Homo sapiens: one gene and its partners. The protein of the gene in region 1 purifies or fractionates together with the protein of each later gene. This does not show direct contact. Each region holds a gene or a part of one and is shown in the gene's direction. Other genes may lie near its edges. The genes, in order: AKAP13, PRP4K, GNA12, DDX42, GALM, ARHGEF28 and TKFC.

Evidence for each region.
Region 2: the proteins of AKAP13 (region 1) and PRP4K purify together in Homo sapiens (affinity purification with mass spectrometry, with the first as the bait; one large-scale study listed by BioGRID). This does not show direct contact.
Region 3: the proteins of AKAP13 (region 1) and GNA12 purify together in Homo sapiens (affinity purification with western blotting, with the first as the bait; one study listed by BioGRID). This does not show direct contact.
Region 4: the proteins of AKAP13 (region 1) and DDX42 purify together in Homo sapiens (affinity purification with mass spectrometry, with the first as the bait; one large-scale study listed by BioGRID). This does not show direct contact.
Region 5: the proteins of AKAP13 (region 1) and GALM purify together in Homo sapiens (affinity purification with mass spectrometry; one large-scale study listed by BioGRID and IntAct). This does not show direct contact.
Region 6: the proteins of AKAP13 (region 1) and ARHGEF28 purify together in Homo sapiens (co-immunoprecipitation; one large-scale study listed by IntAct). This does not show direct contact.
Region 7: the proteins of AKAP13 (region 1) and TKFC purify together in Homo sapiens (affinity purification with mass spectrometry; one large-scale study listed by BioGRID and IntAct). This does not show direct contact.

Annotation. Positions count from the first base shown.
Region 1 is NC_000015.10:85,572,090-85,576,362, forward strand, and holds part of AKAP13 (A-kinase anchor protein 13), read left to right. Parts: intron 1-3,041; coding exon 3,042-3,240; intron 3,241-4,273. UniProt on the Homo sapiens protein: Scaffold protein that plays an important role in assembling signaling complexes downstream of several types of G protein-coupled receptors.
Region 2 is NC_000006.12:4,030,967-4,035,239, forward strand, and holds part of PRP4K (serine/threonine-protein kinase PRP4 homolog), read left to right. Parts: intron 1-592; coding exon 593-1,789; intron 1,790-4,273. UniProt on the Homo sapiens protein: Serine/threonine kinase involved in spliceosomal assembly as well as mitosis and signaling regulation. Connects chromatin mediated regulation of transcription and pre-mRNA splicing.
Region 3 is NC_000007.14:2,795,390-2,799,662, reverse strand, and holds part of GNA12 (guanine nucleotide-binding protein subunit alpha-12), read left to right. Parts: intron 1-4,273. UniProt on the Homo sapiens protein: Guanine nucleotide-binding proteins (G proteins) are involved as modulators or transducers in various transmembrane signaling systems. Activates effector molecule RhoA by binding and activating RhoGEFs (ARHGEF12/LARG).
Region 4 is NC_000017.11:63,776,982-63,781,254, forward strand, and holds part of DDX42 (ATP-dependent RNA helicase DDX42), read left to right. Parts: intron 1-4,273. UniProt on the Homo sapiens protein: ATP-dependent RNA helicase that binds to partially double-stranded RNAs (dsRNAs) in order to unwind RNA secondary structures. Unwinding is promoted in the presence of single-strand binding proteins.
Region 5 is NC_000002.12:38,675,532-38,679,804, forward strand, and holds part of GALM (galactose mutarotase), read left to right. Parts: intron 1-380; coding exon 381-535; intron 536-4,273. UniProt on the Homo sapiens protein: Mutarotase that catalyzes the interconversion of beta-D-galactose and alpha-D-galactose during galactose metabolism.
Region 6 is NC_000005.10:73,936,869-73,940,288, forward strand, and holds part of ARHGEF28 (rho guanine nucleotide exchange factor 28), read left to right. Parts: intron 1-3,420. UniProt on the Homo sapiens protein: Functions as a RHOA-specific guanine nucleotide exchange factor regulating signaling pathways downstream of integrins and growth factor receptors. Functions in axonal branching, synapse formation and dendritic morphogenesis.
Region 7 is NC_000011.10:61,339,398-61,343,670, forward strand, and holds part of TKFC (triokinase/FMN cyclase), read left to right. Parts: coding exon 1-38; intron 39-2,038; coding exon 2,039-2,117; intron 2,118-2,425; coding exon 2,426-2,515; intron 2,516-3,063; coding exon 3,064-3,098; intron 3,099-3,176; coding exon 3,177-3,261; intron 3,262-3,357; coding exon 3,358-3,447; intron 3,448-3,944; coding exon 3,945-4,061; intron 4,062-4,273.

The DNA of each region.
Region 1 (4,273 bases):
TCAAATTTAATTTTGAGAAGGTTGGTAGAATACTCCATTTCATGGAGAATGGACTGTATCACTTTTTAATTGCTCCTGCCTTGGCAAACAGTGTCCTCTAATCTTGTTATATTTGGGTCATGCTCAGTGGTGGTATATAAAGCAGGTTTTGTTTTCAGAGATCTTTTTTGTTGGAATATGGCTGTATGTGATAATCTGATTAAGCAGATATGCCACTAATGTCTGCCACACAATAAGGCATGTTAGTGACTATGTCAATGTAGGCTTGAAAGCTACATTGATAGAGAAGTTGTCTCCCCGCTATTTGACTTCTTGAGTCGTTTCTTTGAACTGTCGAGAGTATTTTACAAGTGCTTTTCTGTTTGAGGTCATTTCACTCAGAGTATAGCAACTTAGTAAAATATGTAAAACATGTAGTATAGCATATGCCATTCTTATTTTAAGCTGCTTTTGGGGAGCCACTCTTGGGTATGGAAGTTGTAATAGTAGTTTTTGGAGTACACTTTATTATTATTACCGTCAGCCAGTACATGATTTTCCATTGCCTTATACGTTTTCCACTGTAGCATTAAAAAAAAAATTTTTTTTTTATTATTACACTGTAAGTTCTGGGATGCATGTGTAGAACGTGCAGGTTTATTACATAGGTATACACGTGCCGTGGAGGTTTGCTGCACCCATCAACCCATCATCTACGTTAGGTATTTCTGCTAATGCTCTCCCTCCCCTAGCCCCCAACCACCTGACCGACCCCGGTGTGTGATGTTCCCCTTCCTGTGTCCATGTGTTCTTATTGTTCAACTCCCACTTATGAGTGAAAACATGTGGTGTTTGGTTTTCTGTTCCTGTGTTAGTTTGCTGAGAACGATGGTTTCTAGCTTCATCCATTTCTCTACAAAGGACATGAACTCATCCTTTTTTATGGCTGCTACTGTAGCATATTTTTAGCTTTAAAATTCCAATTAGTCTCAGGTGAATTGTTAATGACAGACAGGTGTGACTTAGTAGAAAAAACTGGAGAGACAGTTGAAGTAATCTTTCTCATATTTTTCAGTGGCTAGATAGCATGTCTGTAATTTCTTAACTCTTTAGTTTCTTCTATTTCAAAACATGATAATGATCTCAAATATAACCTTCCTCCCAAAATCTCAGGGATACTTTACCAATCTATTGTTTGCTTTGGTGGGATTATAATAACTGTGATATAGGTTGGGAGGCCAAGGTGGGTGGATCACCTGAGGTCAGGAGTTCGAGATCAGCCTGGCCAATGTGGCAAAACCCCTGTCTCTACTAAAAATACAAAAAAATTAGCTGGGCGTGGTGGGACGCGCCTGTAATCACAGCTACTCAGGAGGCTGAGGCAGGAGAATCGATGAACCTGGGAGTTAGAGGTTGCATTGAGCCAAGATCGCACCACCGCACTCCAGCCTTGGCGACAGAGCGGGACTCTGTCTCAAAAATAAATAAATAAATAAATAAATAAATATGATATGATATGGGATATTCAAAGGTGTTAATGTTGTAAGGAAAGGAAAAATAACATTTCATATAAGGAGGAAAGGGTTGATGGAAAGCATAATCTATTATTGTGCCTGATCTTTGAGCTGCTAGGCACCTTATCAGAATGCTGTTTGAGGAGTGTTTTCATTATGTTTAAAGCTTTCAGAGAAAGTAGGATTTTCTGATACAAGTAGAAAAATAGAAAAAAGTAGATATGTTTTTCTACTTTTAAGAAGGGAAGGCTTACTAGGAATTATTTTTAAATGAATGAAAGAGTAGAAGGAGGAAGAATAGGCAGTATCCGTGTGTGATTTCTCTGTGTCAAACACCATAGATGTAGTTTTTTATGCACATTTTCTCTAATTCTCAAAACAGTGCTTAGATTATAATATCTGTGTTTGCATATTATGAAATTAAGGCTCAGAAAAGTTAAGAAATTTGTCTAGCATCATATAGTTAGGAGATAAAATTTTGTACCCAGAAATCTCTAACTCTGTATACCACACTGTGTATCAAACTAATGAGAAAGAATAGTGACACCAACGGTTAGGACTTCAGACATTTACATTTGTGCTGAATGTAGAAGAGGGTGCTTAACACTTGAAATGCGTGCTCAAGTACAATAGTTAATAATATGAGATTGTGTGGGGTATGATTGTGTGCCTCATCCCTGTTTATTGTATGCCCCAAGATTCTTTCATCTGCTGCAAAAAAGCACAGTGCAGATTATGTGTGGTATCACAGCAGGCATTACGGGCATGGGTATGCCTTCTGGATGCAAGGGTGGAATTGGAGGTGCTGTAGCCTTTAGAGGAGAAACCCACTTGCCTTGTTCAAATCAGTTGGCGTATAATGGTGGAAAGTTGTTATATTTGTTTATAATGATATGAGTTGAGCAAACTTGCTTGTTTTTTAAATTTTACGAATTTTAACTTTAAGTTCTTGGAACCAAGTGCTTTATTCCAAATAGGATATGATAATTATATTGACAAGTGTTGAACAATATGTCATTGTAACAGTTTTTCTTTGTGTAATTGACTTCAATAATCTTGAGGGTGTTTTCTGCACCTATTGTTAGAAAAGTTGGAGTGCCCTTGTAAGGGTTGGAGTGAGTGGTTCTTCTCTTGCCATTATAATTGACTGTAGTTAGCATATGGTCTAATTTATTTTAAGAGCACCTCTTAATAAGCCTTGATTTTGTTGAAAATCAGGCTAAAACCATCTTCCTTGCACTTCCTCATTACTTGGTTGTTAGCATAATATTAACTATTATTAGATCCCACATATCTCTTTATCTTGATCTAAAGAACATTGTTAGGGCTAGGAGTCCTGCAGTTTTCATTTAACCCATTTGTGATCTCTTGTGAGGAGGATGGAGCTATTGGTTATATGCCTGAATCATTTGGGAGGTATATATACTAATTTTTGCTGTTGAACCTCAAAGAACAATCAGGTTAGAAATACGAAGTAAGACTTAGAACGTTAAGCCTATGCCTGGGAGGCAGAATGTATATATATTAACCAGAGATGCTTGCATGTAGGGAGAATGCTGGAGAACCAGACTCCTGGAGCAGTTTATCCTATGAAATACCGTATGGAGACTGTTCTGTGAGGCATCATCGAGAGTTGGACATCTATACATTAACCTCTGAGTCTGATTCACATCATGAACACCCATTTCCTGGAGACGGTTGCACTGGACCAATTTTTAAACTTATGAACATCCAACAGCAACTAATGGTAAGTCAGAAAGCTTTTATTTTTAAGTATATGCATGTGTATGTGTGTGTTTTGTATGTGTGTGTCCCCGCCCTCCTCCAATGAACCTTGATATAATTAGAACATAAAAATGCTTTCCTGGTGGGAGGCTGAGACGGGCGGATCACGAGGTCAGGAGATGGAGACCATCCTGGCTAACACGGTGAAACCCTGTCTCTACTAAAAATACAAAAAATTGGCCGGCCTGGTGGCGGGCGCCTGTAGTCCCAGCTACTCGGAAGGCTGAGGCAGGAGAATGGCGTGAACCCAGGAGGCGGAGCTTGCAGTGAGCCGAGATCACGCCATTGCACTCTAGCCTGGGCAACAGAGCGAGACTCCGTCTCAAAAAAAAAAAAACTTTCCTGGCCAGGCACAGTGGCTCATGCCTGTAATCCCAGCACTTTGGAAGGGCCAACACAGGTGGATCACTTGAGCTCAGGAGTTTGAGACCAGCCTGGGCAACATGGAGAAACTCTGGCTCTACAGAAGTTAGCTGGGCATGGTGGCGTACGCCTATAGTCCCAGCTACTTGGGGGTCTGAGGCAGGCAGATCATGTGAGCCTGGGAGGCAGAGGTTGCAGTGAGCTGAGATGACACCACTGCACTCCTGCCGGGGTGACAGAGCAAGACCTTGTCTCAAAAACAGAAAAAGAAGGACTTTCCCCAAAGATTCTGAGACCTGTAAAGCAGTATTAGCAGTATTAAATGTTACCACTTACAGATCAGAGCTAGCATTAAGGTTGTAGCCGTAGGGGGACTGAGAGGTTTTTTTCATTGGTTTTGGGAATAATGGAAGACACACATTTCAGGTACAGAAATATGCAACAACTAGAACTAAATTTCTGGCATAAAAGGATATTTGTCTGTGTTTGGCTTAACTTTACAAAATGAAAGAACCAACAGTTTCTGAGATTGTTGCCAAAGAACAAGAACCAAATTTAATCAGGAGTATTTTTACAACTATTTTAGTGGCGATGATATGTACCATTTAAATATAGTGTTACTATATTTAAAT
Region 2 (4,273 bases), on another chromosome or scaffold:
TATAGCTCAGTATTGGCTCTAGAGTTTTGTTTTGTTTTGCTTTGTTTTTAAGGTATAAGATGAAATCTGCTCAAAACAAGTGACCTGCTGGGTTTACTGTAGAGACACCAAGTTTCATGAATTTCAAGTGGAGAAGGAGATTAGTCTTCCAGTGTATGTTAATAGTTAGTAGGTCTTATTAAAAAAGAAAACGGGCCCTTTGGTTGTTAATGTGTGAGAAATGTTGGTTTAAAAATTAAGTTACTGAGTGGCTTCTTGTACTAAATCAATGTTAATGAGGTTTTGCTGTGCCTGGTTTGCTTTTCCCTTTTTCTCTAACCTGTACTTTTTAAGCTCACTCCATTAGGGATTTCCTCTAATACTTTTGGTGAGTTCAACCATTAGAAACACAATAAAGTTGTATCACTATCCAACTCAGTTCTTGCCGTAGACCTTCTTTGAAATAAAATGTCTGAAGCTGTTCTGAAAAAATTTTAGTGACTGACTTCATGTATTACATTGAGATGTATTTTCTCATTACTGTTATTTTCTTATGGCTCTTTGAATACTTGATAAATGATATGATTTTAAAATGTGTTTGATATATTTATAGGATGGAAGATGCTAATTCTGAAAAGAGTATAAATGAAGAAAATGGAGAAGTATCAGAAGACCAGTCTCAAAATAAGCACAGTCGTCACAAAAAAAAGAAGCATAAACACAGAAGTAAACATAAGAAACATAAACATTCCTCAGAAGAAGACAAGGATAAAAAACATAAACATAAGCATAAACATAAGAAACACAAAAGAAAAGAGATTATTGATGCTTCTGATAAAGAGGGTATGTCTCCAGCAAAAAGAACTAAACTTGATGATTTAGCTTTGCTAGAAGACTTGGAAAAACAGAGAGCCTTGATTAAGGCCGAACTTGATAATGAGTTAATGGAAGGAAAGGTCCAGTCTGGTATGGGGCTCATTTTGCAAGGTTATGAGTCTGGCTCTGAAGAAGAGGGGGAAATTCATGAAAAGGCAAGAAATGGAAATAGGTCTAGTACTAGATCTTCAAGTACAAAGGGGAAACTTGAACTTGTGGACAATAAAATTACTACAAAGAAACGAAGTAAAAGCAGATCCAAAGAACGGACTAGACATAGGTCTGATAAAAAGAAAAGTAAGGGGGGTATTGAAATCGTTAAAGAGAAAACAACTAGGAGCAAGTCAAAGGAGAGGAAAAAATCTAAAAGCCCATCCAAAAGAAGTAAGTCTCAAGATCAAGCAAGGAAATCAAAATCCCCTACCCTTAGAAGGCGATCTCAAGAGAAAATTGGTAAGGCCAGATCTCCTACTGATGATAAGGTTAAAATTGAAGATAAAAGTAAATCAAAAGATAGGAAAAAATCCCCAATTATAAATGAAAGTAGAAGTCGCGATCGAGGTAAAAAATCCAGATCCCCAGTTGATTTAAGAGGTAAATCCAAAGACAGAAGGTCACGGTCCAAAGAGAGAAAATCAAAACGGTCTGAAACTGATAAAGAAAAGAAGCCAATTAAATCTCCCTCTAAAGATGCTTCATCTGGGAAAGAAAATAGGTCACCCAGCAGAAGACCTGGTCGTAGTCCTAAAAGAAGAAGTTTGTCTCCAAAACCACGTGATAAATCAAGAAGAAGCAGGTCTCCACTTTTGAATGATAGAAGATCTAAGCAGAGCAAATCCCCCTCGCGGACACTGTCTCCTGGGAGAAGAGCCAAGAGCCGATCCTTAGAAAGAAAACGACGAGAACCAGAGAGGAGACGACTTTCTTCTCCAAGGTAACTTGTGTACAAAATGTTAAAGCTTTTTACCAGTGCATGAGATTTTAAACGGAAAACTAGAACTTGTGGACCATTAAAAATGAAGTAGTAAGTAAAAATAAAAATAAATGAAGTAGTAATGAGTTTCATAATTTTAAGTAACCCAATCCATTAACCATGTTAATATTTGCACTTTTTTCGATGAGTATTTTAAGTATAGGTGTTTAACAAATACTGAGCTTGATGATAGAATTGGGTTTTTTCACATTCTTGATTTAATACCTAGTTTGCTAAGGCACTCCTTTCAATCCATGTAATTTGGCTGATAAATCTTCATTGGGGGCGTTTAGAGAGAGGATTATTACTTCATGAACAGTGTAGGCTGAAACTCTTAACTTTGAAAAGGGGGAAAGGTAATCAGTTTAACAATTGTGTTCTGTTCATTCTCTTGTATTTGCATGAGTTTTAAATTTTAACAGTATAAATAGAAACCAATACCAATATTTTTTGGTCCCCAAAGTATAATTAAAATGGAAAATTTTGTATTAATACATATAATCTCATTGTTGAAAAGTAGTATCTCTTAAGCTTAAGAAGAATAGTATATGAAATTATTTTGTACTATTTGAATAATATATTGTCTTAGTTCTTATAAATCCTCATGTGATTATCTTAACTCATGAGGTGAAGGGGCTCTCATACCTAATTTATAAATGAAATAGAATCAGAGAATGTATATAATTTACGTAGGATCATAGAACGGAAGTATTTGCGGGGAGGAGTGTTTATACCACTTAAACTACTTTAGAAACAGATTTCTTAATGTCTTTTTTGTATTTAGTATTTAAGTATTATGAAATTGCCAGCTAGGTTTTGCTTATTAAAAGAGTATTGGCTTATACTATATAAGGATGTTATTAATTCCTAGCCGTTTACTGTGTTCATAATAATATTTTCTGTGAATGGGTATAAATATAAACTCACCCTGAAAGTGAAGTCATCATATTTTCAGAGAAATTTCAAATTTTATTTCCAAGTGCTGTGTCTTAAGAGCGTCTTGATTCTTTACTTCTGAGTGGCACTGTAATGAAATAGCCCCTTTTTCCTTTGGCTTCCTGGATTGAGGCAGTGATTAGTTTTACTGATTCTGTTATCTCAAGTGCTTCTTAATTATCTTGGTGGTCTTTCAGTTTGCTTTGTTTGAAGAGCAAATTCTGAGGAGTTTATTAAGGACTAGAGCTGAGTATTTGAAACAAAAATATTTTTTTAAATTACAGAAGTGATGCATACTTACTTATTAAAGAGAAATCCAAATAAGCCTGTAAATTGTCTCCCTTTTCATTTCTCCACTACCACTCCTTAGAAATTTACTTTATCTTAGGTCTTTCCTTGTACAGACAATAACATGAATATAAGGGAATTTTTTTTTTTAACAAAACTGGAGTCATATTATTCATATTCACATGTGGCTTGCTTTTTTCAGGAAACATTTCTGCGACAAAACATATAGATTGTTTTTCATTCTGCCTGACAGCAACTGGTATTTCAGTGTAGATGTATTATAGTATCATTCTCCTATTGAAACTGATGAAAAATTTAGGTTGGTTCCAGTTTTTCACTATTATATGCGAAGATGTGCCTTGGTTATATGTGAGGTTTCTTTATAGAATAGACTCATAGAAGTGGACTTGCAAAGTCTCAGAGTATGTACATTTACATTGTAGAAAGTTATTGCTAAATTTCCATCCAGGAAAGTTAGGTCAATTTCTACTTCTACTTCTATGACTATGTGAACTGCCCCTTTTCCTGAAACTGTATTAGGAAAGTTTAGGAAAACCTTTATTACCAGGATACCATATAGTATTTTGTCACTCTTAAAAACAGAACAAAAAACCCAAAAATTGTTTTAATCGAAATTTCTTAGGTGACTAGTGAGGGTGAACATTTTTATTTTCTTTATTTTTATTTATTTATTTTATTTTATTTTATTTTTTGAGATGGGGTCTTGCTCTGTTGCCAGGCTGGAGTGCAGTGGCGTGGTCTCGGCTCACTGCAACCTCTGCCTCCTGGGTTCAAGCGATTCTCCTGCCTCAGCCTCCCAAGTAGCTGGGATTACAGACACGCACCACCATGCCCAGCTAATTTTTGTATTTTTAGTAGAGACAGGGTTTCACCATGTTGGCCAGGCTGGTCTTGAACTTCTGACCTCGTGATCCGCCCACCTCGGCCTCCCAAAGTGTTGGGATTACAGGCCTGAGCCACTGTTTATTTTCATTGCATTTTAGCAGACAACACTCTGTTCTTTTTATACTAGTTTACTTTATCCCATCCATTTATATATACATATATATACACATATATGTGTGTTGTTTTTGTTTTGTTTTGTTTTGTTTTTTTGAGATGGAGTCTCGCTCTGTCGCCCAGGCTGGAGTGCAGTGGTGTGATCTTGGCTCACTGCAACCTCTGCCTCCTGGGTTCAAGCAATTCTCCTGCCTCAGCTTC
Region 3 (4,273 bases), on another chromosome or scaffold:
TTCATTCTGTGACCTGCTGAATTTTGCCCATTTTCTAACTGGATTTGTTTGCTTTTTAAACTGTTGAGTATGTATGTATGTATCTCAGGATCTTGCTCTGTCACCCAGGCTGGAGTGCAGTGGCACTGTCATAGCTCACTGTAACCTCAAACTCTTGGGCTCAAGCTATCTTCATGCCTCAGCCTCCTGAGTAGCTGGAACTATCAGCGTGTGCCACCATGCCTGCCTAATTTGTTTGATATTTTTGTAGAGACGAGGTCTCACTATGTTGCCCAGGCTGGTCTCGAACTTCTGGCCCCAAGTGATCCTCTCCCCTCAGCCTCACAAAGTGTTGGGATTACAGGCGTGAGCTACTGTGCCTGGCCTAACTGTTGAGTTTTGAATGTCCTTGTATATTCTAAATGAGTCCTTTGTCAGATATGGCAGATGTGTGGTTGGCAAATATTTTCTCCCAGTTCATAGCTTCTTTTCAGCCTCTTAAGAGGGTCTTTGGCGGAGCAAAATATTTTCGTTTTCATCAAGTTCAATTTATTGATAATTTTTCTCGTGTGAATCATGTATTTGGAGTCACATCTAAGAACTTTGAGCACACCCTACATCCTGAAGATATTCTCCTATGTTATATATAGTTCTACATTTTGATTTGATTTTGTATAAGCTGTGAGGTTTAGGTCAAGGTTCTTCCCCACCCCCTCCCCCGCTCCCCCCAATTTTCTTTACCTGTGGAAGTCCACTTCCTCCAACAGCGTTTGTTGAAAAGACCAGGCTTCCTCTTTTTAATTGCTTTTGCACTTTTACAAAAATTACCTAGCTGTATCAGGGGCTATCCCTGGGTTCTCTGTTATGTTCCATTGATCTGTGGGTCTGTCACCTCACCAATACCACACAGTCTTGATTATCATAGCTATATAATAAGTCTTAAAATCAGATAGACTGATTGTTCCCACTTTTCTTTTTCAAAGTTGCTTTAGCTAATTTAATGCTTTTTCATATAAATTTTCAAATAATCATATTTATATCTACAAAAGATCCTGCTGGGATTTTATGGAAATTGTGCTAAACCTGTTTATTAATTTAAGGATATTGGTACCGTGTTGAATCTTCTAATTCGTGACCGTGGTATATCTATTAGATTTTGAAAATTTCTTTCCTCAACATTTTGCAGTTTTCAGCACATAAGTCCTACACATATTTTGTTAGATTTATACCTGTTTCGTTTTTTTAGTGATAGTTAGTAGTAGTACATCTTTCATTTCACTTTCCACATGTTCATTGCTAGTATATAGAAAGACAATTGAATTTCGTGTGTTGACATTATATCCTGCAACTATTCTGGATTCATTTGTTTATTCTAGGAGTTTTTTTGGTAGATTACTTTGGGATTTTCAACATAGATCATCTTTTTATCTGCAAATGGGTTTAGTTGTGTGTTTTCTTTTTTTGTGTGTCTAATCTATTTGTTTTCCCCCCTGCTTTTCCTGAGCTGTGTGATCTTTTATTTCATTTTCCTACCTTGTCGCACTGGCTAGAACTTCCAGAACCATGTTGAATAGCAGTAGCAGAAGTAGGCATCTTTGTCTTTTCCTAGTGTTGGAGGGAAAGCATTCAGTCTTTCACATTAATTATGAGGTTAGCTGTATGTTTTTTTGTCAGTGTTCTTTATCAAGTTGAAGCATTTCTCTGTTCCTAGTTTGCAAAGGTTTTTTAAAATCATGAGTGGGTGGTAAGTATTTTTTTTATCCATACATTTGTCTTTCTAGCCAGACTCTGAGTTTCTGGGGGTCAGATACTGCTTCTTAAAGTTTGTTTCCCCCACAAACAAACACACTGAACAAATGTTTGTGGATTGGTAGAACTAGGCATGGTCTCCAACGGCAGACAGACAAGGTCCTGAGGGGAAAATCAGGGAGCATCTCTAACCAGACCGTCCTGGTCAGCTGGGTCTGGAGGAGACTTTCAACTACTCTTTGGTCATCATTACGTCTGACTCAGTGGTTCAAGGCAGAAGTGGAAGTTATAGGCACCAAATTGATGCTGCAGGAGAGAGATGAAGGAGGCAGAATGGATTCATCTGCTCTGCCCTGGGTGTCAGAAATGAAGATTTTTAGGATAAGTGCCAACTAAAAATCATTAAGTTGTACACTTCAAATTGATGAGTTATATGGTACATGGATTATAGCACAGTAAAACTGTTATTTAAAAAGGAAAAAAAAAAAAAGGCCGGATGCAGTGGCTCACACCTGTAATTCCTAGTGCTTTGGAAGGCTAAGGCCAGAGGATCAGTTGAGCTCAGGAGTTTGAGACTAGCCTGGGCAATATAGTGAGACCCTGACTCTACGAAAATCTTAAAATTAGCCGGGCGTAACGAGGCATGCCTGTGGTCCCAGCTCCTTGAGAGGCTACGGGCAAGGATCACTTGAGCCCAGAAGGTCGAGATTGCAGTGAGCCATGTTCATGCCACTGCACTCCAGCCTGGGTGACAGAGCAAGACCCAGTCTCCAAAAAAGGAACATAGATAAGTGCCTAGTGAGCAGGTGACCCTGGTTTTCTCTGTCCTGGAGGATGGGATGCTGCTCTCAGCTGGCCTGAGTCCCTCAGATTGCTCTGAGATGAGAAGGCTTTTCCAGATGGACAGATGTGTACTTGATAGCCTTCTCAGGGCCCTTGACCACTCTGTATACCCCCAGTGTAGACCATACCAGAGAGTATGCAGTGTGCCCCTCAGAAGAACACAGAAGTTCTCATAAACACTGCCTTGCTGATTTCGAAACATTAGTCTAAGGATGGTGGAACAGACCTCCTAACTGCTCAGGGGGTGCTGTTTTTGCTGAGAGAATATTTTCCAAAGGCTGGCTGCATTCCCTAATACTATGTTAGTTATTTCTTCATCCCTTTGACCCTGTTGATGAGGTAAGAAGGGGCAGAACAACATTAACTTTATCTTTAACAATGAGGAAACAAGCAAAAGAATGAAAAGTAGTTTCTCATCACAAACGATGGTGACGTTAAATCTAGAACATGATCCCCTGGCTCCCGTTTTGGTGGGCGGGCTACTTGGCTTGTCGTATTTTAGTCTTTTCCTGTCTCATGACTGCTGACTGCCTGGATTTGTATGTTTTCCCACCCGTTTTAAGCTGGAAGAAGCAGTTGTATCTTTTGGAATAGAGGAGCTGCCAGATTTCAGTGATGATGACAATAGTAGCGCTGGTAGTACTCTTGGCAGTACAGTCATCTCCCGTTATCCACAGCCAGCCGCCAACGGAAAATAGGCGCGGACGGTGATACCACATTTGAGAGACAGAAGGAGAGACCATATTTACTTAACTTTCATGACAGTATATTGTTATAATTGTTGTATTTTATTATTAGCTATTATTAATCTCTTACTGTGCCTAATTCATAAATTAAATTAAACTTTAAAAACAATACAGGTAGGGCTTGGTACCGTTCAGACATCCACTGAGGGTCTTGGAACTTATGCCACGGATAAGGGGTGGAGGCTACTATAGTTGTTGTTAAAACATTGTTTTTTTGGCGGGGAGGCTGAGGCGGGCGGATCAGCTGAGGTCAGGAGTTCGAGACCAGGCTGGACAACATGGTGGAACCCCCCTCTCTACTAAAAATACAAAAATTAGCAGTCCGTGGTGGTCTGTAATCTCAGCTAAAAATAAAAAATTAGCCGGGCCTGGTGGCAGGTACCTGTAATCCTAGCTACTTAGGAGGCTGAGGCAGGAGAATTGCTTGAACCTGGGAGGCGGAGGTTGCAGTGAGCCGAGATCACTCCATTGCACTCCAGGCCAGGGCAAAAAGAGTGAAACTCCATCTAAGAAAAAAAAAAAAAAAAAAGTTGTTTTTTTACTGATACACTTCATTTTCCAGTGAAATTTTCTGAAATTGTTGCCACCTCCTCCCCGCCCAGTTGTCTTTTTTCCAGTAGCTTTGCAAATGAATGATAGCAGAAAGCAGACTTCTTTCTGTGGTGCTTATGTACATCTGTTTTCTTTTTTTTCTTTTTTCTTTTCTTTTTTTTTTTTTGAAACAGGGTCTTGCTCTGTTGCCCAGCCTAGAATATAGTGCAGCAATCATAGATAACCGTAGCCTTGACCTCCTGGGCTCAAGCAATCCTCCCCGCTCAGCTGAGACTACAGGTGTGCCACCACCAAGCCCAGCTGTTTTTAATTTGATTTAATTTTTTGTAGAAGCAGGGTCTTGCTCTGTTGCCCAGGCCGGTCTCAGACTCCTGTGTTCCAGCAGTCCTCCCTCTTTGGCCTCC
Region 4 (4,273 bases), on another chromosome or scaffold:
TTGTAACCTGGAACTCCTGGGTTCAAGCAATCCTCTTGCCTCAGCCTCCTGAGCAGCTAGGACTACAGGCGTGTGCCACCATGCCTGGCTAATTTTTTAAATTTTTTTGTAAAGACAGGGTTTTATTGTGTTGCCCAGGCTGGTCTCAAACTCGTGGCCTTAAGTGATCCTCCCACCTTGGCCTCCCAAAGGGCGAGGATTACAGGTGTGAGCCACCTTGCCCAGCCAGCCATAGGATTTAGTGCCTAGAACCATACCAAATAGGACTTGATGCCATCTTGACTGTTTCTCTTCAGCCTAGTTGTAGATCTCCTTTAGTCTTTTACATATTGAATAAATGAGTATCTAATATTGAAAACATGCTATAAGAGAAAAGTGAATAAGCCTGTTTCTTCAGCCATGAATCCTATAATACGGAGTTGGACTGGAAAGGGAGTTTGAGGAAGGAGATGCCATTTCTTTTTCTTTCTTTTTTTTTTTTTTTGAGACGGAGTCTCACTCTGTCGCCCAGGCTGGAGTGCAGTGGCGCGATCTTGGCTCACTGCAAGCTCCGTCTCCCGGGTTCAAGTGATTCTCCTGCCTCAGCCTCCGGAGTAGCTGGGACTACAGGTGCCCACCACCACGCCTGGCTAATTTTTTTGTATCTTTAATAGAGATGGGGTTTCAGCATGTTAGCCAGGATTGTCTCGATCTCCTGACTTCGTGATCCACCCGTCTCGGCCTCCCAAAGTGCTGAGATTACAGGCGTGAGCCACCGTGCCCAGCCAGGAGATGCCATTTCTTTGGGGATATCATATTCATGTCTTTAGGAGTTGGTATTTGAGATATGCTTTGAAGGATAGGACTTTGGTAGGTACTCACAGTTTATAGGAAAGAGATTTGATGTGAAGGGGATCCAGTTAGAGGGAAGAGGATTCACTAGAGTGCTTGTTTTCCTGGAAAACTGAGTACGTGTGGAGAGACCCTGGGAAATATGAATGGTAAAGTAGTTTGATGCCACAATGGAGGGTCTCATTCCAGCATGATTAACTGTGGAGAGCTATGGAATTGAGGAGAGTGACATAATCAGAAATGTGTGTTCTGGAAGAACCTGGAAAGGGTTTTCGATAAGCATCTGAATACTGACCTCCCTTCTGTGAGACTTTTTCTGGTTCCACGGTATTAACACACACTATGCTACTCTACCAAAGGAGGTAAAACTTGCTTTTCTCTTTTCACTGTGTGTCTCACTATTACTTCATCATTTTATGCTTTACTAAACAGAATCACTTCTCATAGACTATGGAAGATTTGCTGGTTTTAGATGAAGCATCTGGATGTACATCCACATTACTTTTCCAATAAAACAGACATTCTTGGGACAGTAGTCAGGGGAGGATTACCTGTCAAATGTCATTCATCTCAGAGAGGCCTTGCCTGACTTAAGTCTGCAATAGCTTGCCTCTTACCCTCTTGCTTGCTTTTCATAGCACTTTTGCTACCTGGAATTACATGATTTAGTTTTTCTTTCTCCTGGGCCAGACTGTGAACTCTGAGTATGGCTGCATCTGATTCCATTACTGTATCCTTAGCACCTTAGAGCAGTTACTGGCACAAAATAGGCACTCAGTATATTTTGACTTAGTGATCACTCTAGTAGTGCTGTGAGAGCTTGATAATAAAGTTTTTTTTTTTTTTAAGACAGCATCTCGCTCTGTTATCCAGGCTGGAGTGCAGTGGCACGATCTCGGCTCACTGCAGCCTCCGTGTCCTGGGTTCAAGAGATTCTCCTGCCTCAGCCTCCTAAGTAGCTGGAACTATGGGTGCGCGCCATCACGCCTGGCTAATTTTTGTATTTTTAGTAGAGATGGGGTTTCACCATGTTGGCCAGGATGGTCTTGATCTCCTGACCTTGTGATCCGTCCACCTCGGCCTCCCAATAATCAGAAATTTTTTTTTAGGAAATAATTGCAATAGTGGAGGTGGAGATGGAAAGGCGGGTATACGTGAGGGATGTCCCTCATAGTACTGGGCACATAACAAAATCATCAGTGGTTATTGGTCAGTATAAAACAATGGATGTTATTACTAAGAACCACTTAGGGTTGTTCTTTTTTAAACAAATACTCATTAAACTTTGTTTATGGCTCTATTCAGCTAATTCTTTTCAAATTAGGTATTTCAAAAGGGTTCTTTTTTAAATTTTTATTTTTTGGCACCCCAGCAGGAAATGAAGAAATCTTTTTTAAGAGAAAAAATACAAAAATGCAGTTGAATTTCCCCAAGTGTGTTTTTTTTGTTTGTTTTGGTTTTGTTTTTTTGAGACGCAGTCTCACTCTGTCACCCAGGCTGGAGTGCATTGGCATGATCTCGGCCCACTGCAACCTCCGACTCCTGGGTTCAGGCCATCCTCCCACCTCAACCTCCCGAGTAGCTGGGGCTACAGGTGCACACCACCACACCTGGGTAATTTTTGTATTTTTTGTAGAAATCAGGTCTTTCATTGTTGTCCAGGCTGACCTCTAACTCCTGAGCTCGAGCCATCCTCCTGCCTTGGCTTCCCAAAGTGCTGGGACTGCAGTTGTGAGCCACTGTGCCCACCTCATTTTGTTTTCTTCTTTTGGTACTATCACCACAATCTAGCCACAGGACACTTTTCATCTTGTAAAACTGAAATTCTGTACCCATTAAACAATAACACCCTATTCTCCCCTCCTCGCAGCCCCTGGCAACCACTCTTCTACTCTGTGTCTCTGAGTTTGACTATTCTAGGTATCTCTTTTTTTTTTCTTTTTGTTTTCTTTGTAGAGATGGGGTCTCGCTGTGTTGCCCAGGCTGGTCTCAAACTCCTGGCCTCAAGCCATCCTCCTGCTTCCCAGAGTACTGGGAATATAGGCGTAAGCCACTGCATCTGCCTCTTTTATTTTTTTAGTAACCAAATAGAAATTTGGGTGGCTATCTTTTGCTTCTTCTGTCAGCTATACTCCCACAAATCTCTGTGATTGTCAAGGTTCAGTAACCATATACACTACATGGTTTAATAGTAGGAAAAACTGCCGGGCACGGTGGCTCACGCCTGTAATCCCAGCACTTTGGGAGGCCAAGGCAGGCAGATCACCGGCGGTCGGGAGTTTGAGACCAGCCTGACCAACATGGAGAAACCCCATCTCTCCTAAAAATACAAAATTAGCCAGGCGTGGTGGCACATGCCTGTAATTCCAGCTACTTGGGAGGCTGAGGCAGGAGAATCACTTCAACCTGGGAGGCGGAGGTTGTGGTGAGCTGAGATTGCGCCATTGCACTCCAGCCTGGGCAACAAGAGCGAAACTGTCTCAAAAAAACAAAAAAAAAAAAAAGTAGGAAAAACTGTTGTCAAGAGACTTAAGTAATGATCCATTGAGGATGATCTGGCTTAGATTTAATCAGGAAGGGTGGTTAGCTAGATAACAAGGTTTGTAGTAATAAAATAGAGTTTTCATAAATACTGGGATGAATTTTGGAGAGCCTGAATACATTACATTTATTCATACAGCAAAATTTTTTGAGTACTATGCAGACACCAAGGATATAGTGCTGGACAAATTGAGTCAAGTCTATGCCCTCATAGAGCTAACATTCTACTCAGGGTATATAGAAAGCACAGTTCCTTGGCCTTCCTAGAGTCAGTAATTGAGGGACAATGAGCTGTGTGTTCTAGATGAGCTAGGGAAAGGATCGCTTTTCCAACTTGCTAAGTCTTGAGAGCCAGTAAGCAACCCTCACCTGCCCAAGGTCTCACTGCCTGCCTGTTTGTGGCAGGAGTTGATTTGCTGCTTTTGTAATATGAACCTTTTGATTATTTAATAGGGCTGATTCATAGTCATGTTTGTTCTTTTCACTCCTTCCCTCTAGCTTTGGGGGAAGAGTGAGTTACTCCTGTTGTTAAAAGTTTTGATTGTGTCTGGTCTTCTCTGGAAATCCTATGACTTTTTTCTGTCATTTTGCATCTTCAGTTTTTCAGACTTTACTGGTTTTTCCCCTTTAGCATATAAACATGCCTATGTTTCTTTAAAAAATAAAATTTCTGTAGGTAATGCTTCACTTTCTCCTTCCTATCATTGATAAACAGCCTACAAAGTACTCTTGACTCCTCTTGACCTAGTCTTCATCTTCTACTACTTACTTGCCAGGTACTCCTCAACCCTGTCCCTACTGCTCCATTGAAACTGCTTTCACTGATGACTCCTGGTTGCCTATACAACAGAAGAATTTTAGTTCTTTTTGTTTTGTTTTTTTGAGACAGAGTCTCGCACTC
Region 5 (4,273 bases), on another chromosome or scaffold:
TTTTTTTTTTTTTGTGTGTGTGTGTGTGTGTGTGTGTGTGTGTGTGTGTGTGTGTGTGATGGAGTCTCGCTCTGTCGCCCAGGCTGGAATGCAGTGGCGCGGTCTCGGCTCACTGCAAGCTCCACCTCCCAGGTTCATGCCATTCTCCTGCCTCAGCCTCCCGAGTAGCTGGGACTACAGGCGCCGGCCACCACGCCCAGCTAATTTTTTTGTATTTTTAGTAGAGACAGGGTTTCACCGTGTTAGCCAGGATGGTCTCGATCTCCTGACCTTGTGATCCGCCTGCCTCGGCCTCCCATAGTGCTGGGATTACAGGTGTGAGCCACCGTGCCCAGCCTGAATTGAAGTTTTAAAAGTGCTGTCATCCCTTGTCCTTGCAGGATACCTCCAAAAGCAGCCATACTTTGGAGCAGTTATTGGGAGGGTGGCCAACCGAATCGCCAAAGGAACCTTCAAGGTGGATGGGAAGGAGTATCACCTGGCCATTAACAAGGAACCCAACAGTCTGCATGGAGGAGTCAGAGGGTTTGATAAAGTAAGTACGGCACATGTGACTGAGTTCCCTTTAGGCTCACTTTACGCATACCTTCTGCTTGCCAGGCACAGTCATAGGCCCTAGAGCACATGAGTGGTGAGATGCAGGAAAGAGGCCCCTTCCATGGTTCAGGGCAGCAGGTGCAATGGGCATGTGCTAGGACCCATCCTTCTCTAGTTCATCTGTTGGAACAGACAGGGGAGCCCCAAGAGAAAGGATGTCAACCTTTGACTTAGGAAAAATGAGAAACAACTTTCTCACAGTGTTGAGATCAGGGAGTCGGGTTGAAGAGATGTGGATTGATAACAGTATCTTCCACTTATTGGACAAGACATTGACATATATTATCTCTTACTCTTACTAAAACTCTGTGTTATCACTAAATGGGAAAACCGAGGCACTGAAAGGCCACATGGCCAGGCACAGTGGCTCACGCCTGTAATCCCAGCACTCTGGGAGGCCGAGGTGGGCAGGTCACCTGAGGTCAGGAGTTTAAGACCAGCCTGGCCAACATGGTAAAACCCCGTCTCTACGAAAAATACAAAACTTAGCTGGGTGTGGTGGCGGCCACCTGTAATCCCAGCTACTCTGGAGGCTGAGGCAAGAGAATCGCTTGAATGTGGGAGGTGGAAGTTACAGTGAGCTGAGATCACGCCACTGCACTCCAGCCTGGGCAACAGAGCCAGAGTCCGTCTCAAAAAAATAAAAAATAAATAATAAATAAAGGGCCACATGACTCCTAAGTGGGACAACCAGGGCTGCCTGGCCCAAAACACTCATTCTTACACCATAGCTGCTGGTGTCCACCCAGGCTGCATGGGTGCCCCCGTCCAACATGCTTCCCTGTACCTGTCATTAAGCCCCCCGCCCCATGCAGCATGGCGCTGCACCAAGGCCTGCCCTTCCACTGAAGTGCCTCATGCCTCAAAATCATATCAGATTCTCCCCAGTTCCTCCTCTCCACATGAAAACGACCATTCTTTAAGCAGATCCCTAGAAAACAAGGTCAGGAAAGCAAATTGATCGAACAGCTTCTCCCTGGGGTGGGAGTGCTTGGCCTCCTGCTTCCTAGCCCCATGGGAGTCTATGGGTTAACCCCAGTGATTGCTCTCTTACTAGTCTAATTTCAGGCTGTGCAGGAGTAAATTTCAGTAGTTAACTTTCTTTTAAATTATACCACCCAGGTTATTTGCTAGAGAAGAGCCAGAGAAGAGCCAGAGAAGACAGGAACATGTATGGCCACTAATGGCCACAGTTTCTTCTCTTCTGCCTCTAACCACCACTTGTCCTGCAGAAGGAGGCTTCCCCGCCTCCATGAGCTTCCTGCTGGTGGCCTGGAACTAGACTGACTGCCCCATGGGTTTCCCTTTCCTCAGTGATGGGATTCTTCATGCCAGGGAGGCAGAGGGCAGCATGTGCTCTGCCAGTATTAGGGCAGAGTCTCTAGAACATGCCAGGATCATGAGCAAACCCCAACCAGAGAAAGTAAGGCCCAGCCTGGCTTCAGACAGGGATCTTCAGAGGAGCCTTAGGACAGCACCTCGTTCTAGCTTGCCCCTGCTCCCCCTGTTCACTGTGGCATTTTCCGTGGTGTTGCTTAACTTATATTCCCTTCAAGAACACAGCAAAATCGTGAGTGTACCTAGCCTTCAGTGCAGTGTGCCCTTGAGCCCCTTCTGTGAAGCAGGGGGCACAGTAGGCCAAGGACTCCTGAGGCTCACAGTATAAAGAGGGAGATGGACTCTTACATGATAACTGTTAAAGGCGAATGGCCACAAGCACCATAACAAGCCAGAGAAGACAGGAACATGTGTGAACAAATGAAATAGCAGCCTAGGAGATAGGATTGGAACTGGCCTTGAAGAGCCAATAGCATTTCATTCAATACATGGATATGGGAGAGAATGACTGCACAGTGGCCCTGAGAGGGGTGGGGAAAGACTTTGAACTCTTTTTTTTTTTTTTTTGAGGCAGAGTTTTGCTTTCATTTTCCAGGCTGGAGTGCAATGGCGCCATCTCAGCTCACCACAACCTCCACCTCCTGGGTTCAAGCAATTCTCCTGCCTCAGCCTCCCAAGTAGCTGGGATTACAGGCATTCGCCACCATGCCTGGCTAATTTTGTATTTTTAGTAGAGACAGGGTTTGTTGGTCAGGCTGGTCTCAAACTCCCGACCTCAGGTGATTCACCCACCTCGGCCTCCCAAAGTGCTGGGATTACAGGCATGATCCATCGCACCCGGCCACCAACACATTTTTTTTTAAGATGACAGTTGAATAGGATTTGAAATGGTATAAGAAGATCTAGAGCTGCAGAGTTTCTGGAAATTTGGAAACTACAGGCTCAGGGAAATCCTTCCATAAATAGGAATTATGCTTAACCAATCATATTGGTTTACACAAAAATCTTTCCATTGTGTCCTTTCTCTACAAAAGAAAAACTAGGTAGCAAGTTAAGATTTCATTTCAATTATTTAATTCCTGAAATGTTCCATTTGGGATATTCTATTTCTTTTTTAATTACACATATAACAGGCTTCATATTTTGAGTGTCTTGAAAGTTCAACCTTTCTGGGAGCTAACTAGGGTGTAAAATGAATTTTTCACTAAGCTCAGTGAAAGTATTTCACATACCAGCTGCCTTCACTGTAGGTGAAGGCAGAGACCTCCGTTCCTGCTGGGTTCTCCTTCCTGGCAAATGCCACGTCTGTGAGAGCAAAGTGGACAGATCCTGGGCTCAGAGACCACTCCTGTGGCCCACAGAGGCTATTATCTTTCAAGTCCATAGAGTTTGGCCTCAACTCTTCTGTTGAAAAGGAAGATTCAGACAAAAACTTCACTGAGACTAAGATGTGGAATAGAGGAGACAGCCAGTCCTGAGTTTGAACCCCAGCTCTGTCACAAATAACATGTATAACTTTATTTATTTATTTATTTTTTGACACGGAGTCTCACTCTGTTGCCCAGGCTGGAGTGCAGTGGCGCAATCTTGGCTCACTACAACCTCCACTTCCCAGGTTCAAGTGGTTCTCCTGCCTCAACCTCCCGAGTAGCTGGGATTACAGGCATGAGCCACCATACGTGGCTAATTTTTGTATTTTTAGTAGAGACGAAGTTTCACCATGTTGGCCAGGCTTGTCTCGAACTCTTGACCTCAAGTGATCTGCCCGCCTTGGCCTCCCAAAGTGCTGTGATTACAAGTGTGAGCCACTGCACCCGGCCACATGTGTGACTTTAAACAAGATTTTTTTTTCCTTCTAAACAATGGACAGGTAGTATGAAACTCCCCACCGCCCCCGACACACACTAGGAATGTAGAAGGTAGATGTGGGTATAAGTTAACTCCACTGAACTCAATTTGCTCATCTGTAAAATGGAGGTAAATAATATTTGTTGAAGCCACATGAAATTGCCAGTGTTCAACTGTTTTGACCTACAATGATGGTCATTTCATTTGGGCAACCAAATCTTTACCTTGCAAGATGATTTATGTAAAGCACCAGGTCATTGACTATTGAGCACTCAACAAGTTGGAGGTCTCATGCCTGCAACAGGCCCCTTCTTTAGTGATCCCAGAGCTCTCTAAAGGCACTGGGAATCTCTGGCCAACTCATCCCCTGATAGTATAGAGTAAGGGAACAGTCTCAGGATCCAGTCCAATGCCACACACTAGCTGTGTGGCCTGGGGCAAGCGGTTTATCCTCACTGAGCCTCCATTCTTTCATTATTCAATGAGGATG
Region 6 (3,420 bases), on another chromosome or scaffold:
CTTTGTTCATTTTAAATATGACACATAGTTGCATTTTATGCACTGAGATGATAGTCTGGTCTTGAAAATAGCCAACTAGTCAGTTGGCTCAAAAGAATGATGATAATGGTGAGCCAATGGAGGGAAGGCTGATTTCTCTTCACTGTTAGAAATGTCAGTATTGGGTAAACAGAGAAAAGTGTGAAAAATGATAAATGCAAGTTCCAACCAGCAGGTTGCACCTAAGGGCTAAATATTGGGAGATTTAGGAAACTTTCTCTGGATATCAGTGCTGTCTGCAGGTGTGTCTCTTGACAGTCTATTTCCTGTCCCACATGCCCACAAAGAAAAGGAATGGTGCCAGCCAAAATGTGGATACCTGTAATTTTTTGAAACCATGTTAGGAGACTAACTTAGACCCCCCACGGTGGTCCTCATAATGTGAGTATCGAAGTTTCCTGCAGAGGCTGAAATTTTAGTTTGTGAACAAAAGCTCAGTAATGTAGCAGAAAAAACTCTCAATCAAGATCCCACTTTTCTACTTGGTTTAGTCAGGCTTTGGGGCTTTTATGTGTTTTAGCTTATTTGCTCTAAAGGTTAATAATGCTCGCTCTGTTTAGTTTCCAGAGATAATGTTAGGGATCAAATTATTTCTTTTATGTCAAGAGGCAAAATTGTGTTGAGATACTTGGCTGAAATGTTTTTTTGTAGTTTGAGTTTTGTTTCATTATAATAATATTCGTTTTTAGTTGACCAAATTATGATTGTATTGCTATTTCCTTGCTTATTAGAAATATGTTATTACATTTTTATGTCCATCGATTTACAGGCAATTCGATCACAAATGAAACTGGGTGATTACTTTTATATAGCAAGAATTCTGCTTTCTGAGTCAGTGAGGTTTAATATTAACAAATGTTTTTTCAGTTTAGGGTTCTATATGATGATCATATTCTCTAGGGTAAAAAGTGTGGAAAAAGGTGGCTGGCCTTGAGAAATATACAATTGCTGTGCTGGTTCTTTCAGAGTTGAAATGGAGTAACAAAATCAGAAATCACCAAACGGTTTCTAATTTCAAAGACAGACTGTCTGACCTTGCCTACATAGTTCAGGTAGAAACCAAGAAGGAACATGGAGAAGGAAATTGAGTTCCCGTCCAGGTGACATACAACCACAACCACCTCCAGTAATACATCTGGAATTACAACATGGGCTGTTCACCTTAGGGCACAACAAGCTCTCACCTAGGAATGTGTTTCTCCTGTATTTTTATTCTTATTTGAAAAAGTTCTGATTAAACTTCTACACTACACCACACACACACACACACACACACACACACACACACACACAACTCCCCATCCCCATCCCCGTTCATTCTTGGTTCTGTATCTTCTTGAAGTAGAGCATACAATGTAACTTAAAAAAGAGTTATTTCTGATATATATTCAATTTGGCTGTTTTGAACAAGTCTTCTCTTGAAGCCATTAAGGGGATTTTCCATGTACCTCAAAATATCACTATTTTGAATTTTTTGCTCCATGTTTCACACCCCAGATGAAGAAAACCTACATAGATTAAGGGCTTCCAGTGTGTCCGGCATTGTCAGATGTGTCAGCAATGACCTCCCAGCTGCCTCATTCACTGGATGATTTTTCATCCTCAATGTAGTAATTTTTGTGCTCTGGCTGGCCCTTCTGTTGGTAAGGAGGCAGGACTGTTGTGGCTTTGGTGACCTGTTCAGTCTGCCAGTGTCTGCTCGATGGAAATTTGGGGGCATTTTTTTGAAGTTGTATAAAATTAAACATCAGCAATTTAGCTGTGCATATTTGTATTTAGAGGTGAAATAGCTTCAGTCTATGGCTGGGAAAAGGAATTGGAAGTGTGACTGCGTGTTGTGACCACAGGCATGCTTTGTCTCCCAGTGTGGTAAAATAGGATTCAGAGCATTCCAGGTTGATTTGTAATGTTGCCCTGACAAGGAAATCATTGCCTGGGAATATTTTTGTTCGCCCGATTAAGGGAGGTTCCTAGTTCTATAACAATTGCTGTGTCAGTTTTGAGAAGCTTAACATTAATATGTCTTTTTTTTTTTTTTTTGCCTTTGCTTTCTTCTTTTTTTTGGCAAGTGACTCTTCAAAATGTAGTATGTAAGGGAGGGAAAGTATTAAACATTGAGGATCTCTTAATTCAGAAAAGATGGCCAAGCCATTTTCAGCACAAAGAGAAATGAGAAGCACGAGAGTCTTGATCATTAGAGCAAGGAGTCATCACGTGGCTGCCATCCTCTGAGCGTAGATCCAGATCACTTCCTAGCTGCATGATGTGGGTCAGAATTTCACTAGCCTGAGCCTCGGTTTCCCAGCCTGTAAATTGTGGGTTTTAGCATTTTGAGACTTAGAGAGAGATGACGAATGTAAAAGACCTGGGACAACTCCTGTGCTCTGTAAATGGTGGCAGTTAGAGGCACCTTCTGCAGGTATGCTTTCAGTTGTTAGTGAGTTCCTGGAATTTGAGGTACAGCATTTAGGATCAGGGGCAGTAGAATCAAGCTTTGTGCCTATTGGCATCTAAAGGGTCAGGGATGGGCTAAGCCTTTGAGCAGAGCTGTGGTTGCAGCCTCACCCCCATGCCTCCCTACCTCTCTTCCTCCCCTCCCCTGCCTTGAGGGTCCTCCTTTGCTTCAGAGGCACAGTCCAGCCTTGGTGCAGCTCCTCCAGGGACCTTCATCGGCTCCTGTGGCCCTGGCTGCTCCTCCTCCATTGACCCACCTCCTACTGGAAGATGGGATGAAATGAGGTGTGGCAAGGCCACCATGTCCCCAAAGATGGAGCCTTCTGGGAAGAGTTTTCCTTTCATTCCTGCCAAGCCTTGCTTACTGCCTTCTCTAGCAACCAAAGATCCTTGTCAGGAGGGCAAAGGCCACAAGCATTTGTGTCATTGGAATGTCTGCACGTGTGTATATCCATCTAAATAATAGAGGCTTTGAAGAAAATGTGGCGAGGGTTACAATGGCCTCTTTTTTTTCTTTATGTTCTTTAAATTTTTTTTTAATTTTAATTTTTATAAGTTTGTAGTAGGTGTATGTGGCCTCTTCTTAATGACTGAAAAATAAGCAGGTGGGCCTCAGAGCTATTTGCCCTCCTTTCCCACCTGGACTTCCATTCCTACTCAGGTTTTTGTTCTAACACAAGCTGGTTATTTGTAATTTTGCCATATGGCTGAGCCTGAGGGTGAGTGGTCAGTGGAACAAGTGCAGGGAAAATGGTTTGCAGCAAGTGTCTTTCTTCAAATCAAGCCTCCCTTTTGTCTCTCCTTGAAAATATAATATTAGAGGATTTTATCAGAAAAAGGGAGAATACACAGTGTCCTGCTGTTGCTAGGTAACCAGAAAACATCAAACCCAGTCAGAGCTGAAACTGGCTTGATTTTCCCTAGGAA
Region 7 (4,273 bases), on another chromosome or scaffold:
GCCGGCGGGGGCTGTGCGGCACGGTGCTTATACACAAGGTGGGCTTCCACCGGGGACGTGGAGACTGGCCAGCCCTTTCCAGCCTTCCCTTGCCTGGCAGCACCCAGTAACTGGACCTTTCCAGCCCTTCCCCAAGAAGCTAGTTCTTTTTCTCCAGTGTTCCCTGATCTCAGAAGGCCCCGCCATCCCCTCAGCTACCTAAGCCCAGATACAGGCATTTTCCCAGACTCGTCCCCTTTTCTTCTCCACACCCAATCAGTTGCCCGGTCCTGGTGCTTCTCCTCCCAAATGTACAACACACATCCTTCTCAGACCCCGCCCTCCTGCTTTGCCTTGGTTCAGGGGTCATCTACTCATGCCTGATGGCTGCAGCCACCTCCTCACTGGGCTCCCCTGCCTGCTTCCTGCCTTCTGGCCTTGCTCATCCATTCTCCACACTACTGCCAGAGGTGTCTTTTTAAAATGTGTATCTGACTAGGTTATTCATCCACTGAAAGCCTTCTTGGGTGCCTACAATCAATACAAGCCCTCACCATAGCTCCCTGACTCCCCACCTTCATCTCCCATCATCCCTGCCTTCCTCTTTTTTTTATTTTCTTTTATTTATTTTTTATTTATTTATTTATTTTTTGAGGCAGAGTCTCACTCTGTTGCCCAGGCTGGAATGCAGTGGCGCGATCTTGGCTCACTGCAGTCTCCGCTGCCCAGGTTTAAGTGATTCTCCTTCCTCAGCCTCCCGAGTAGCTGGGATTACAAGGCGCCTGCCACCACGCCCGGCTAATTTTTGTATTTTTAGTAGAGATGTGGTTTCACCATGTTGGCCAGGCTGGCCTCGAACTCCTGACCTCAAGTGATCTGCCCGCCTCGGCCTCCCAAAGTGCTGGGATGACGAGCGTGAGCCACCGCGCCCAGCCATCCCTGCCTTCCTCTTTTTTTTTTTTTTTTTTTTTTTTTTTTTTTTTTTTTTTGAGACGGAGTCTCGCTCTGTCGCCCAGGCCGGACTGCGGACTGCAGTGGCGCAATCTCGGCTCACTGCAAGCTCCGCTTCCCGGGTTCACGCCATTCTCCTGCCTCAGCCTCCCGAGTAGCTGGGACTACAGGCGCCCGCCACCGCGCCCGGCTAATTTTTTGTATTTTTAGTAGAGACGGGGTTTCACCTTGTTAGCCAGGATGGTCTCGATCTCCTGACCTCATGATCCACCCGCCTCGGCCTCCCAAAGTGCTGGGATTACAGGCGTGAGCCACCGCGCCCGGCCCCTGCCTTCCTCTTATGGTCTCTTCACGCCAGCTCCTGTACCTGCCAGGCTATGGATCATCTCTGGCTTTGCTTATGCAGTATCTGTGGCCTGGAAAATTCTTTCCTTGTCCAGCCTCCTTTTGGCCTGGCTAACTCCTACCATTCTACAGAGGCCCAGCTCTGATGTCTCCCCACCTGGAAGGCTCTCCCTGATCTCCATCTCCCCACTACCCTGAGCTGGTTGGCAGCCAGTCCTAGTGTGGACTCCATCACTGTAATTACCACCTCACATAAATTTTCAATTTATGGGTATCTGCTTCCCTAGCCTCTCCCCAGGCTGTGAGTTCTTGAAGGTGGAGACTGTGACTTAGTCGCCTTTTTTCCTTTTCAGCATATACTAGATGCTTGGTAAAAATTGGGTGGATGGATGGATGGATAGATGGGTAAAGTGACCCAAAATAGCAAGGCTATGGGAGAGAGAACTCTGGAACTCTAGAGTTGGGAAACTGGCCACCCACTGGCTGTGTGACATTGGACAAGTCACCGCCCCTCTCTGGGTCCATTTCCCCATTTGTAAAGTCTCTTCTGACTCCAACAGACTGGAATTCTTGAAGATTCCTGGCAGGTACACTGTGAATGAGGGGAGTTTGCTCTTCTGCCCTAAATGTGATGGGCCAGGTTGAGTGTGAAAATCCTGAGGTTCCCCCTTCCCAACAAGAAATTCATCCCCTGCCTGTCTTCTACCCCACATGGTACAGTGATACCCTCCCCCCTGGGGCTTTTACCTCTTTGTGGCTGCAGGTGGCAGGTGCTCTGGCTGAGGCTGGTGTGGGGCTGGAGGAGATCGCAAAGCAGGTGAACGTGGTCGCCAAGGCCATGGGTGAGTGCTGGCCTGGGAGCTGGGGAAGAGAGTGGGGAAGGTTGGACAGCCCTGGGGCGAGGAGCAGGTTCCTGTTGGCTGCCTAGCGGTGCTCCCCAGGTTATTCCCCAGGGGTCTAGGGAGTGTATCCCTGGGGGAGCTCCTGGGGACTGGTGGCCTTGGGTACCATGGCTGAGGTGGAGAGTCTGGCAGCCTTTCTCAGAGAAGAGGGTACCTGTGGGCAGGGCCTCTGAGATGCTGCTGCCACCCTTCCTGATGCCCAGTGCTAAGAGTGGAACAGTCATCCCTTCATGCCTTGTTTCTCATAGGTACCCTGGGGGTGAGCTTATCCTCCTGCAGCGTCCCTGGTTCCAAACCCACCTTCGAGCTCTCAGCCGACGAGGTGGAGCTGGGCCTGGGTAAGCTTGTGGCCATCCATCCCAGCCCTGCCTGCTCCTTGGCCCTGGACTTTGCCCACCTTGCATACCCTTAGAGCCATCAACCTGGTCCTCTCCCCAGGTGGTCTTAGTATTTTTACCTGGTCATTTGAGGCCCAGCCTGGGCCAACCTGCCTGATTTCTACCTGCTTTGCTGTCTATACCCACAGCTTTGGCCATGTGGAGCTCTGTGCACTGCCCACCTCCTAGCCTTTGCCTGCCATTCCCAGGTCCTCCTGTCCCTGCCAGAATACACCCTTCTTTCAACGGCTGTTCAAAGATCACCTGGCTGCAAAGCTTTCTTTCCTCGCCTGTGCTTCCTCCTTAACTATCTCTAGTTAAAGCTATCTCCACCACCAGGCCACAAGCTCCCAGAGAACAGAGATCGTGTTTTTCATTATTCTGTCCATTTCCATCCCCCACTCCCGCCCACTTACTGTGTGAGTCCAGCACTGTGTGAGTCCTTGATAAAAACGATGAGCAAATCCCCAGGCCTTGAGTGGGTCAGCAGTGACCACATCTATCCGCAGGGATCCACGGGGAAGCTGGTGTGCGCCGGATAAAGGTAGGTGGTCCCTCTGGCACAGGCCGCCCTAAGGCCAAGGCCCCCCAGATGCAGCTCATTCCTGGCTCCCTCTGACAGATGGCAACCGCCGATGAGATTGTGAAACTCATGCTCGACCACATGACAAACACCACCAACGCGTCCCATGTGCCTGTGCAGCCCGGTGGGTAGCCTCTCGCCCGCGTCTCCCAACCCCTCCTAAACCTCTGGGGAGGAGACGCCCAGAGGGTCTCACCTGGGGTGTCATGTCTACCCGCAGGCTCCTCAGTTGTGATGATGGTCAACAACCTGGGTGGCCTGTCATTCCTGGAACTGGGCATCATAGCCGACGCTACCGTCCGCTCCCTGGGTGAGCCATGCACTGGGAAGGGGATCCTACAGCCCTTTGGAAAGGGCTGAGGGAGGGTCTTGTGATGGCAGAGAACACGGACTGTGCGTCAGATAAGCCTGAGTTAAATCGTCTCTCTGCCACCTAATTGCCGGATACCTTGAGCCTCTGTTTGTTTTCTTGTCTGCAAATTGGGGGTAATAATAATGGTACCTGCTTTATACCGTTGTTTTGAGGATTAAGTGAGATTAAACATATGTAAGACACTCAACACAGCGCCCAGCACCTGGCACGAACTGAGTAAATGAGACCTGTAATTACTCATCTTCCCCGACGTAGGGGACACCTCCAGGGAACGTGGTCATTTGTGGGGTTATTGAGGGATGCCTGCCAGGAGGAAATCAGGACATCTCCCTCCCGACCTCAGAGCCCCAGCTTCCAAGGTCCTTGCTTTTCTGTTGTTTTCTTTCCCTGATGCCCATTTTTCCCTTTTGGACTGCCACACTCTGGTATTGCAGAGGGCCGCGGGGTGAAGATTGCCCGTGCCCTGGTGGGCACCTTCATGTCAGCACTGGAGATGCCTGGCATTTCTCTCACCCTCCTGCTGGTGGATGAGCCTCTCCTGAAACTGATAGGTGAGACTTGGAACCTGGGGTCACCCAAGCCAGGGCTCCTTGTAACTGGAAGGAGCCAGGGAGACTTGGAGACCCCGTCAGGGCTGACCGTGACAATCAGGGCTCTGGAGCCTGTGAAGAAGGCTCTTCCTGGGCTTCTCCAGCCTTCTCCAGCTCTCACTGGACTAGAAGGAGTTGGTATTAGGATCCTCCTCAGAGAGGCCTGACCCTTT